Linked DNA regions of Homo sapiens: all the other regions are reported to be linked to region 4. The links are microRNA targets in miRTarBase. Many come from high-throughput screens and were not tested one by one. Region 4 holds a microRNA gene; each other region holds the end of a gene's coding sequence. Distances are from middle to middle.
Evidence for each region. Region 4 holds the annotated microRNA hsa-miR-329-3p (AACACACCUGGUUAACCUCUUU, at 1,801-1,822, opposite strand). A microRNA usually pairs through its seed, bases 2 to 8, with sites in the 3' UTR of a target mRNA and lowers its output. Matches are read on the target gene's strand: a 7mer-m8 pairs with bases 2 to 8, a 7mer-A1 pairs with bases 2 to 7 and ends in A, and an 8mer does both.

Region 1: the mRNA of DNAL1 is a reported target of hsa-miR-329-3p. The part of its 3' UTR that is shown has no 7-base or 8-base seed match.
Region 2: the mRNA of ZNF496 is a reported target of hsa-miR-329-3p. Seed matches in the 3' UTR shown: 7mer-m8 at 1,296-1,302 and 7mer-m8 at 1,455-1,461.
Region 3: miRTarBase lists WAPL as a target of hsa-miR-329-3p. Seed matches in the 3' UTR shown: 8mer at 1,792-1,799.

Annotation. Positions count from the first base shown.
Region 1 is chr14:73,695,572-73,698,571 of GRCh38, reverse strand. It overlaps DNAL1 (dynein axonemal light chain 1), which reads right to left. Exons shown (of 8, transcript NM_031427.4): 8 at 1-2,670. The coding sequence ends at 2,630. Among named protein-coding and RNA genes, the nearest start is that of PNMA1, 17 kb to the left of the region's middle. RefSeq lists an enhancer at 473-642.
Region 2 is chr1:247,297,668-247,300,819 of GRCh38, reverse strand. It overlaps ZNF496 (zinc finger protein 496), which reads left to right. Exons shown (of 10, transcript NM_032752.3): 10 at 1-3,152. The coding sequence ends at 301. Among named protein-coding and RNA genes, the nearest start is that of ZNF496, 33 kb to the left of the region's middle. RefSeq lists enhancers at 99-997, 998-1,897.
Region 3 is chr10:86,434,900-86,438,045 of GRCh38, reverse strand. WAPL (WAPL cohesin release factor) reads left to right here. Exons shown (of 19, transcript NM_015045.5): 18 at 31-126; 19 at 438-2,790. The coding sequence ends at 503. Among named protein-coding and RNA genes, the nearest start is that of GRID1, 70 kb to the right of the region's middle. RefSeq lists a silencer at 1-34.
Region 4 is chr14:101,025,504-101,028,655 of GRCh38, reverse strand. It overlaps MIR329-1 (microRNA 329-1), which reads right to left and starts at 1,871; the gene lies at 1,792-1,871. It overlaps LOC124903407 (mucin-2-like), which reads right to left. Exons shown (of 5, transcript XM_047432049.1): 5 at 1-3,152. It overlaps MIR1197 (microRNA 1197), which reads right to left and starts at 3,092; the gene lies at 3,005-3,092. MIR323A (microRNA 323a) reads right to left here and starts at 2,924; the gene lies at 2,839-2,924. It also overlaps MIR758 and MIR329-2.

The sequences.
Region 1 (3,000 bases), 27 Mb from region 4:
CTCGGGAGTGAGACTCTGTTTAAAACAAACAAACAAACAAACAAAAAAAAACAGAATAGAAAAAATTTAAATGATCCACTAAAATGGCGTAATGTCTTAAACCGGAAGCACAGAGATAATCTATTCCACATAGGTCAAATATCTGATCCAAGAGGCATAAACCAAAGGCAGTTTTATCAGCTAAATTTGCAGCAGTAAAGGATAATTTAGGGAATGATTTGAGAGAATATCCTACATTTCTTCATACATCCCAACTGCCATTTTCTAATGGCATGGGTTCCATGAACAGGGATGCATAGAAGTCATTCAAAGATTTGTTGAATGATACTGAATATGAATTTTGCATGAAATGGACAGAGAAAAGTATCTTACATTTGTCTGAGAACTACCTGTAATTAAAAGTCATTGAGAAACAAGGAGAAAGAGAACCAGTTTCTATATTACAGAATTCAGAAAAAACAAACACCAAAACTCTAAGCCATTTTACAAATAAATTCAATATGAAATCACTTACTTCCTATTATATTCACTTCCAGGGTTACTTTTAGAAAACATATCCATATCAACATGGCTTCAAGCTTGCCTACTGAAGGAAGTGCAAACTTTAAGAAGATCATCTTCCCTCTCAGTTTATGGAACTTAAAACATCACCAAGGAGAATGAAGGCTCATTGCCTATGGTTCATAAAAGAAATGTCCAAAGGCTTTGAATGCATAAACCAGCTAGAGTAGAATAAGGTTTCTTCCTATCAGATTGAAAAGAAGAGAGAAAAGAAAACTAAAAGGGTGTTAGACCAAGTTTTCCTCTTTTTTTTTTTTTTTTTTTTTTAAATATGGAGTCTCGCTCTATTGCCCAGGCTGGAGTGCAATGGCGCAATCTCGGCTCACTGCAACCTCCGCCTCCCGGGTTCAAATGATTCTCCTGCCTCAGCCTCCCGAGTAGTTGGGACTACAGGCGCCCACCACCAGGACTGGCTAATTTTTGTATTTTTAGTAGAGACGGGGTTTCACCATGTTGGTCAGGCTGGTCTTGAACTCCTGATCTCAGATGATCCGCCCGCCTCGGCCTCCCAAAGTGCTGGGATGACAGGCATGAGCCACCACGCCTGGCCTCTTGTTTGTATTTAGAGTTGATTGTCAAAGCAGTGGTCCCTTTTGATCAGAGTAACTTAGAAAAATCAAGTAATTCCTATGTAAATGATAGCTGAAATCTTCTGAAACCCAGGACTACTTATGCAATCACTTTTTAAAGATGATTCTTCCCTCTTTCACTGTGATTTTATGCAAGTAAAATCACACAAGTAGATGGGGAAACCAGAATCAACAGTCTCTGAGGGACTTTAGGCACAATTTGGCAGAGGGCCCCTGACTTCTTTTCTGCAATCTAATAGTGATCCAGCCATGGCCTCCTATGACCTCATCTGCTTACTGACTACAATGTCTTACATTTTCCTGAAGGATTTTTTGTTTACATGATAAATTCTAACCTCTGCATCTAACTATTGCTTTGCAATTTTGAGGTTAAATCACCTACACTGCTTTATGTAGGAGACAATCCTCAAACATATTGCCATTTGCCTGGGATCTCATAATGAAACATCTCCCTTCCCTCCACAACCACGTACATAATACATTTTAAGAGCTGTTTAACTTAGAACTTCTCAAAAAATATATTTTGAAATACTAAGTTTCATTATACCCTTACTTATAACCATGGTAGTCACTTTTCCCAACAATGAGGGTCACCAGACCAAATAATTAGGGTAAATTTTGACATACATCAATGGCCAGCATTTAGTCTAGGAATTCAAATATAACTAATGCTTTAAACACATAAGGAACTATAAAACCAAAATGTGTGCTTAAGGCGAGGTCCACATGAGTAACATTGCCACATTATCAGTCAAAGAAATGATCATGACAGTCATTTTAACCACTAACTGAGATCACAGAATGACTGTACACAATGACTCAAGTGGCCATGCATATAAAAACAACCTAAATTCCAGTTGACAATGTGCACATTTTTGGAAAAACAAATAAGTATAATATAGACTAGAAGGTCTCTGAGATACTACTTTTTCCTTTTTTCACCATATCTTTTCCAATGGAACTTTGGAGTCTTGGTTCCGGACCTGCTGTATTTCTAAGAGGAACTCTTCCCATCACCATGCTGCCTTCTGAGCTAAAGGCATGTGCTTCTGAATTGTACAGAGACAGACCTTCAGGAAAAATGTTCTGAATTTTCAAATGTACATCTTTTAAAATGTCTAACCTAAAAAAAATGAACAAACTGAAAAAAACATTTGTTCCTTTGTTATTAAAAATGACTGGTCTACAAAGGTTTTGTTTTAGTAGATGGGGCTACACAGTACGTAACTGAGACTGAAGACAAAAATCGAAAATTTGTGGTTTCTAAAAAGAGAAATAGGATATATAAGGTTGGCATTACCAGTTTTGGGGAGAAACACTGAATAAGTTAAAGGAAAAAAAAAGATGAGAATGAGTGATCTGTTTTATCTTAAGAAACTTTTGTCCCATACAGAATCTTTAAAATAGACAATTATATAAAATTTATCTATTGTTCTTATGACATTTAAATAAGTTAACACACAGTGGAAAGCGTGGCATTAGTTGTCTTCTTCCTCATCCCCTTTAATTACTGGAGTACCTAAAATGAAAAAGAAAATTATTACTGGTTATTCTCAAAAAATTGCTAAAATTCTAGATGAAAATATTTTCCTGGCCGGGCACGGTGGCTCACGCCTGTAATCCCAGCACTTTGGGAGGCTGAGGCGGGTGGATCACCTGAGGTCAGGAGTTCAAGACCATCCTGGCCAACATGGTGAAACCCCGTCTCTATAAAAATACAAAAATTAGCTGGGCATGGTGGCGGGCGGTTGTAATCCCAGTTACTTGGGAGGCTGAGGCAGGAGAATCGCTTGAACCCGGGAGGCAGAGGTTGCAGTGAGCCAAGATTATACCATTGCACTCCAGCCTG
Region 2 (3,152 bases), not on the chromosome of region 4:
GGACAGACTCCAGCCGGTGGAGAAGAGAGAGCAGGCGGCATCCGAGGACGCGGACAAGGGTCCCAAAGAGCCGCTGGAAAACGGCAAGGCCAAACTGAGCTTCCAGTGCTGTGAGTGTGGGAAGGCCTTCCAGCGGCACGACCACCTGGCTCGGCACCGCAGCCACTTTCACCTGAAGGACAAAGCCCGGCCCTTCCAGTGCCGGTACTGCGTCAAGAGCTTCACGCAGAACTATGACCTCCTCCGCCACGAGCGCCTGCACATGAAGCGCCGTTCCAAGCAGGCTCTGAACTCCTACTGAGCCTCTCCGCCTGGGGCGGCCTCACCCTGGCTGGTGCTGCCCCCTCACCTTGGTACTGATCAGCGCCCCCACCCAGGACATACCTTCCCCAGGATAGAGAGCACACCTCCCTCCTGTCCTTGCTCTCAGGTAGTGAGCGTTCGGGTGGTGCCATGGGAGCACTCTCCCTCCCCCAGGTAATGAAAGAGTGGCCAAGTGAGTGTTCTGTTTCTGCTGTGCCAAAAAACGGGGGGGATGTGCCATCACCAGGTTGGACATGCCAGGTGTTCTGCGTCTTAGAGACCCTTGGCCCATGCTCCCCAAGCTCGGGGAGTAAAACTGGGCTATCCCCCGTCAGGGCGGCACCCTGGTCACCAGCCAAACCTCAGTATACTCCCTCCCCTCCTTCCCTGTCTGAACGCTAGGATCTGCTCCTGAAGCTCCAGGATGCCTGCACTTCCACTGAGAAGCTGCTGGCGGATGTTGGACTAGAGGAAAGAAGAAGGCAGGGTGGGACTGATGGGCTCAGTGGGGAGCAGGGCCAGGCACACTGAGCCAGACATGTCATGTCTGAGCCCCAGATTCGTGGCCATCAGGTAGGCAGGAGCACCCCGCAGATCCAAGATGATCAGGCAGCCCTTTTGGGCTGGCCTCTGTGGCAGGGGTCTGCAGAGCTCCTTCTTGAGGTTTGGAAACAGTCGTCATACCTGTTGATTTTCCTGGGGGCCAATCACTAGGGATCTGGAGCTCACCAAAAACAAAGCTTACATTTTAATTTGTGTTGCACACCTACCCCATAATGTCTTTATACCCCAAAGATCCTTGGTAAATGCTTGTGGGTTGGAAGCGGAGTTGTCATCGTTTAAAAGGCACTTAAGTCCCTTCTTCCAATCTGTCCTGTCTAGGAATGTGGAGCTCTGCCCCCAGTGAGGGGTTCTCCTGTCTGGGTGAGCCAAGCTCCAGAACAGAACCTTGCCTGACAACACACTTGATAGATACATTAGCTTGGAGTGCTGGTGTGTCCAAACACTGGCTGGCTTAGAACAACAGGAGTGTATTCCCTGACAGTTCTGGGAGGTGCACGTCCAAGATCAGGGTGTCCTCAGAGTTGGTGCCTTCCGAGAGCTGTGAGGGAGAAGCGGCTTCATGCCTTTGCTGGCAGTTGCCATTCCTTGGTGTGTGGAAGCGTCACCCAGTCTCTGCCTTCATCTCCACATGGCACTCTTGCTGTGTGCGTGTCTGTCTCCAAACCTCCCTTTGTTTAAGGACACCAGTCATATCGGATTAGAGCCCATCCCACCGACTCCAGTATAACCTCATCTGTATCCGCAGCAACCGTTTACCAATAAGGTCACATTCTGAGGTACTAGAGGTTGGGACTTCAACATCGGAATTTGAAAGGGACAGCATTCAGCCCATGACTCCAGATAAACGTGAGGTATGCTATATCATTCCTAATTTACAGATGAGTCAATACAAACTTGAGTGAGCTTGCTCACAATTCCATCAAAGGCAGGGTTCAGACCCAAGTTTCAGCATTTAGGGCAGGTGTCCTCTGCATGGAAGAATCATACTCAATAGCCGTAAACGCTGACAAATTCCCCTTCCTCCCTGCCTTCTGATGGGGGCTGGGCAGGCCAGCTGGAGCTGTGTCTCCTGCTGGGATTCCGGACTGAGAGTGACAGCAGGTAGTGAAACCTCAAGCAATTTAAAACATGGTATTGTTCCTGGAAGACTGGTTATGTTGGCTAGGGTCAGCAAGAGAGGGCATCAAGGCTGTAGTCTAGCAGTGATTTAATCTGCAAGTCAAACCAGACGGGTATTTTGTATTATTCATATGTCACATCCTACCAACAGACAGTAAGTCAGGCAAGGCTCCTGGTGCTCCTTGTCACTCACGTAATTTTCACATCAGGAAAACTCTGGGCTGGGTGCAGTGGCTCACACCTGTAATCCTAGCACTTTGGGAAACCAAGGTGGGTGGATTGCCTAGCTCAGTGACACCAGCCTGGGCCACATGGCAAAACCCCGTCTGTACCAAAAATGCAAAAAATTAGCTGGGTGTGGTGTTGACGTTTGCGGTCCCAGCTACTCTGGAGGCTGAGGTGGGAGGATTGCTTGAGTCTGGGAGGCAGAAGTTGCAGTAAGCCGAGATCATGCCACTGCACAAGCTAGGTGACAGAATGAGACTCTGTCTCAAAAATAATTAAAAAGCCTCTGCCCCAAACTCGTTAAAAGATTTTATAACCACAACTGCTGTTTCTGTGTAGATGCATCTGCATGCCCAGGAGCAGTAAATGCAATAAAATCATTTGGTTATACTTTGAACACAAAATAAACGGTTGAGGCTTTTACTTTCTAAATAGTTTGTCTCTTGTATCAACATAGCTGGAAAAGGGAGAAATCCGATTTTTAAGGCCAAGGGAGGGGAAAATTCCAAGTAGAAGCCAGGCTCTCTGTACACGTTTACCCCACCTACCTGTGTGCTCCTACCTGTGCTGAGGATTCTCTCTGTAGCTCTAAGGTCTTGGGAAGGTTATTCACCTTCCTGCTTCAGACGTCTGACTCAAGAGAAGAACACTGTTCTACTTACCAGAGTGTTTTTCTGTGTAAAACCACATCATGAAGGAGAAAGCGACAAAGGGAATGTGAGGGGCTGGAAGCCACAGGGAGGCTGTCTCTTGAGTCCCCACCACTGATCCAGAGCCAACCAAGGCACCTCAGGAAATGGAAGGCCACATTGCCTCTGGATTTGGAAATCCTCCTGGGTAATGTAACTGAAACCCAGGTTGATGCCATGCAGCAGGAGCAGCAGGGGGAACGTGCTCTCAGGAGAGGTCGGCCAACCCTCCAGCCCAACACCCTTCACCAC
Region 3 (3,146 bases), not on the chromosome of region 4:
TGACCAATATTTCTTGCTCTGTTTCCTCAGATCAATGTAACCACTGTGCGGGAATATCTGCCAGAAGGAGACTTTTCAATAATGACAGAGATGCTCAAAAAATTTTTGAGTTTTATGAATCTCACTGTAAGTAGCTTTTATTACAGCTTATATGATTTTAAATTTATAATACATTGACAGTAGACATAAAAATACTATGGCCATAGTAAGTGGGAGCAAAAAGGGATTTTCTTTTAATTTTAATAATCGTGTTCTATTTCTTCAAGGTAATCATTGCATGTTATGGCAAATAACTTTATCAAACCCACAATTTAATCTCGGTGTACTTTGATTTGTAGTGTTCAGTTTAGTAAATCTAGAGGTAAACTTTTATTTATACTTCTTAAAATCTGTTAAATATTAACTGTTACTTCCTTTCCCCTTCACCCTGCTTTCAGTGTGCTGTTGGAACAACTGGCCAGAAATCTATCTCTAGAGTGATTGAATATTTGGAACATTGCTAGCTGCTTTACCTTTGCTTCAGGTGCTCGGTAATGCTGGAGCTATCCTTAGACAAAGAAAAGTCAAGTCATGAAAGAAGTCCTTGAAGATATACCAAGAACATTCATCAGTATCATTCGTGTTTGGATTTTTAAGGCCACCTGATTTCTTCGTCATGCATTCGGCATTTGCTAAATGACAGTTACTACATCAATCTGCAACTATCAAAAATGAGGGGAAAAGGTTCAGGCTGTTAACAATTCCATGCAGTATTTAAATACATTTACTTTGGCAGAGTTTATACCCTCCCCTTGTTTTCTTGCTTTATTCTGGGCAAGTTTGAAGGGGAAAATTTGTGCTGCTGTTAGTGCAACTGCTGTGTATGTTGAGCCACTGTTGTCATGCCAGCCAGGTGCAAAGGCAGCTTAGCTACTGAGGTAGCGAATGTTCTGAGGACATTCTAGACAACAGCTTAGTTCCTTTTTCAGGCTCATTTGCTTTTGCTTTTTTGTTGAATGATTCCAATCGTAAATAAAGCTTTTAATAATTTTGTGAATTTTTTGGTTGTTGTTCCCTGAACTACTGTCTATATTTAAAATTAGATGGAATCCAAAGATACACGGGATTAATAGTATATTTTTTTATTCTTGATTAGGTTTGGGTTATTGAACTATTTTTTACTTTTGAGACCACAACCATATTCAATATCATACCATAATGTGTCATAGCTATAGGCACAAGAAAAACAACAGTTTGAGAGAATATTATATAAGATGATGTGCCCTGTTAAAAGGAGGAGGCAAAATAGTCAAACCCAGGGTAGTTTACACTTAATGCTAGGGAGGCTCTTAAAACATTATTAGATTTTGAGGAAAGACTCTCTAGATATATTTTCTAATGTTCAGTACAATAAATATAAGGAAGCTAAAACACCAATGTGGAATTCCTGTTTCCAGATAACATGTATATTCTTCTATAGAGTGACAGGATCAATTGCATAAGCGCAAAGCCTTAAATTGCTGGTTTAGAGAAGACCCTTTTTTCATTCAGATTCTTTGTTCGTAGAGCAGTTATTTGAAAAACAGTTATGGAACACAAAACATTTTATAGATTTAATATCATAACATTGCAAATTTTTCTTGTATTATTCACACCACTGGTTATACTTTTTTTTTTCCTTTTTTATTGATTGGGCCTGAATACAGGCTTTCTAGAGATCTTTTTCATTAATACTTTTAAATACCTTTCAGGTAGTTACATCATGTTTCTTCATTGGATTTGTAAAACTTGAAGCCATAAAAATATTAGTTTGGTGTGTATTGGGGAAAATAGCTAAAAGTCTAATTTTTACCCATTTAGACTTTGTTATTTCCTTGTATAAAGTGACAAATCGGGGCTCTTGTATCAGTGCCAGCTGTAATGTTTTTAAATGCAGTGGCTGCCTTCTATTGTCTTCCTATTTTTGATAATGCAGATTGTTGGGAAATCTGTAAGGAAGTAACTGATTCCAGGCAAATTGTTTTCTTCCTTCTACCCACCCCAACCCCTACCCATCACCTTTTAAGAACATAGTACGCCAGTGTAACGTGGGAACCATTGAGATTGTATTTGCCCTGAGTATTAAAGCTAGCTTAGCAAAATACTTTTAAAAACATATTGGTAAATGATACCCGTAAAATTAAATTAGTTATATTTTATTTTAAAATGCAAAATACATTGATATTTATTAATCATTGGATTTAGGGAAAGGGACAGATTTTTGGTGAACCTGACTTGTGGCAGATGGTAAGGAATATTATAAAACATTTGGATGAGAACAATCAGGGCGAACTGCATTTTTCTGTTACACTGGTAATCATTTGAAAATTGATTTACCTCAGTGTTTAACAGTTTTTTGTTTTGTTTTGTTTTTTAAATAATAACTAATTGTCGAGCACTGATAGAGATGCAGATTTTGGTGGGGGGAGGTGGTGGGGGAGATAATCACTTCACCAACTGCAGTGCATTTGTGTGTTTTTAACCCTCAGAGAACTCTGCATTTTAGGGTACTTGAGGCTGACTTAACTAAAAGTTTTAAAGTAACCTTTTTTCCATTGTAAATATTTCTGTAAATACTACCAATTGGAAATTAGAACAGTAGAGTACTTTTCTGAATCCAATCCTATTTTTATTTTATACAGTATTTCTCAGCTGTGATCTTTGGAGCAAAAGCCAACGGCAGGAAAAAATAGTTTGTACCAGTTTCATGAAGTATGTCTTTGGGTTTTTGTAAATAATTTTAACTCAAATAAAATTGCTACTTTCAATACACATGTTGTCTTTAACATAAGTCTATTGGAGGACAGAAGTGTCACAAACTTTATATATAGCCGACTCTAATGGGAAATACACTATCACTTAACACATTTAACCAGTTTTTGTTAAATATTTTATTATTTCTCCATGTTTTTAATAATACTCATCTGAATATAATGTGAACTCAACAACTCAGGCCAATTAGGGACTGGATTTTCAGTTAGGCCCTTGGCATACTTAACTGTTTTGATTTAGGTTATTTTTTGCTCCTATGAGTATGATCCAAGACATCTTTGCTTCTGAGGTTTTACACTGCTTTTTAGTTTTTCAGTTTTCTTCTTAATTGTCAGCCCTTAGGCATCCTGCATTTA
Region 4 (3,152 bases):
CTCTGCACCCTTGCCACCTGTCCTTTGACCCCTCCGTAGCCAGCAGAGCACCCAATCTACATGGACCCAGCAGCCGCCTACCCTGGATACCCCGGAGGCAACAGCATACTGCCTGCTGTCACATGGCCTTGACACACTCTCTCTGCCCTCTCTTTATGAGGGCTCTTTTCGGCTGGAAGGAACGGTGTTTGGGTATCAGCTAATAGGAAGGATTGGTGGCGGAGGTCATTGGTGCTACCTCATATGTTCTCTCTGGTTATAAAAAGCAGGGTTGACATGGAAATACCTGGCCCTTCTCCAGAACCTGAGGCCCTCCTCCCTCACAGTCCCATCCCCAAATGCCACAGATGAGCCGAGGACCCACAGTCACAGCTAAGTGCCATCAAAACAAATGCAGCACCAGCAAAACCTACTTCTGTGCCTTGGCTTTAGAGCTGGCAGGGAGCCTTTTCCTTCCCCAGAGGCTGGCATCACCTCCAGGAAGTCCTCCTGGAAAGGATCGGGCACCAAGCATTACTGCCAGACAGGACGCTTAGAACAGGGGAAGCACCCATCTCGGCCCACTCACCCTGGCCTGGGCCTGACAACTGTCTTATCCGGAAGCCTTCCAAACTGGTGTTTGATACTGAAGAGTGGTCCACAGAAATGATTTATATAAAAGAAACAGATATGCCAAAGGAAACCTCTCCTTGAGCACCCCAAAGAAGGACCATCTGCAGAAACACAACCCTGAGGGTAGGTCAGATGTGCTGGTCAGTGGAGCAGGTGTGTTCCTGGGGAGGTACATGCCCCGTGGTGGGCCATCCACTCCCTTCCCCTGGATCAGGGCTGGTGACAATGCCCTCCCTTCAAGCTGGCATGACATCAAGGATTCCTCCAGATTTAAAGGAAGTCAACTCCACAATTCCTGTGAGAAATAAACAGGTCTCAACCTGGGCCAATTCCAGGGCCCCCAAGGTCTCCTCTTGACCTCAGAATCAGCTTTTCTTCCCTAAGGTGTCATTATATCCAGGACATCCTTTCAGAATAAACTGCAGGCTAGGGGCAGGCGTGCAGGACACCTGCACTATCTGTCCAGGGCATGCTGGCATTCCCCTGCTGTGGGCTGGGCTCATTCAAGCCCATCACTGAGTGTGGCAAGGACGAGGCATCCCCCTACAGCAGGGTCAGATGCCGAAAGAGCCTGAATTACACACACGATCCGTTGGGAGCACAACGAAGGCAACCACAGACAACTCACCTGCATGTTCCGTGACACTGTCGTGGTGACACTGTCTTCCCCCAGGCTGCCATCACATTGAAAAGTCCTCCTAAGAAGGGATAAGACATTGAGGGTTAGCGCAATCGGTGGCAAAATTCAGAAACATGGGGCACGCTTAGTGATCAGCCATTTGCTCGTGTCTCCTTATTTATGTCCACAGCACCCCTTCCCTGAAGCTGAGGTCTGGACCAGAAGGCCTCCAAGATGGGATTTGATACTGGAAAAGAGGTTAACCAGGTGTGTTTCGTCCTCAATAAAGAAACAGAAACCCAGAAAACCTCTCTTCAGGTACCACCAAGTAACACTGACAAGAACACCACTGATTCCTTCCCCAAACTTGACATTCAGTCCTGGAAGTCCTGTTAAATACGGATTGGACACTGGGGTTAGTAGAACAGATGACATCAGTCAAAATAATACAGCACAGGCTTCGTGGTTAACCATAGATTTCTGTCCAGTGGACTGGAGCTGAGAGTAACGCCCTTCCCTGAAGCTGAGGTCTGGACCAGAAGGCCTCCAAGATGGGATTTGATACTGGAAAAGAGGTTAACCAGGTGTGTTTCGTCCTCATTAAAGAAACAGAAACCCAGAAAACCTCTCTTCAGGTACCACTGATTAACACTGACAAGAACACCACTGATTCTTCCCCAGACTTGACATTCAGTGCTGGAAGTCCTGTTAAATATGGAATTGCACACTGAGCGTTAGTTAGTTGATTTGCCGGAAGAAGCCAAGAGTTGGATGCATGCTGCTTGCCAACCATCTATCCAAGTACCCCAGTGGAGCAGACCCCACATCACGTCTGGAAGTTGACATCACAGCCAGAGGTGGTGATGCCATAAAAAGGCTGGTCACAGCAGCTATCGCGTTTAGGGTTAACCTCCAGGGCCATCTTTTCTCAGTTACTCAAGAGAGGCACAGATGCCCCAAAGCAAGGCTGACTCCACCAAAGGTCCTGCTAAGGACCCAGTGGAGACTGAGGTGTGACGGGCCAGGCGACCTTGGTTGTAAATTAAAGTGCATACACTCAGGTCAGCTGATCACTGGAGGACTTTGGGATGGTATAGACAGCATGCCCCTTCCCTTGAACTTGGATGCCTCCACATCTAGGAAGCCCTCCAAGGAAAGAGATCGGAGTGAAAATCAGTCCAACTCAGCCACATTTGGCATACATGTCGCAAACGCCTCGCAGATGCTCTCTTCAGAGTCTAACAGAGTGCAGCTGGCCCCAGTTTACTGTCTCTTTCCCAAAAAGTTGACACCTCTTCCAGGAAGTTCTCCAAGGGGGCATTAGATACTGAGGGTTAGTGGACCAGGTCACAAACGGCACAAATAAAGCGTGTGCTCTCTGGTCAACCATCTCATGTATCCAGGCACGTGCTGACACCACGCTCCTTGTCCGCAAGTTAACCCTGCTGCCAAGCCAGAGCAGTGTGCTGAGAAGAAGGCTGCCACACGTGAGTTATCGTCACACACAAGACAAACACATCACAAACCCCGCTGGGTCACACTGAGCGCAGACCTAGTGGCCCCCACCCCCGCAGTTGATGTTAGCTCCAGGAAAGCTTGCAAGGCGGGATTAGATACTGCAAAGAGGTCGACCGTGTAATGTGCGCCATAAATAAAGCGAACGCGCCACGGACCACCTCTCTCCAAGTACCAAGCAGCAGCCGTACTGACACCAGGACAGTGGCTCTTCCGCAAAGCTGATATCACCTCCTGGAAGTCTTCCAAGGCGAGATGTGATATTGAGAAGAAGTAGACCATGTGTCCTACGTCACAAATAAAGCGTACACACCATGGTCAACCGCATCTTCAAATACCAGGAAGTGACGCTGACCCCTGGCTCTCTTCCTTTCACCTGCTATCACCTCCAGAAAGCCTCACAATG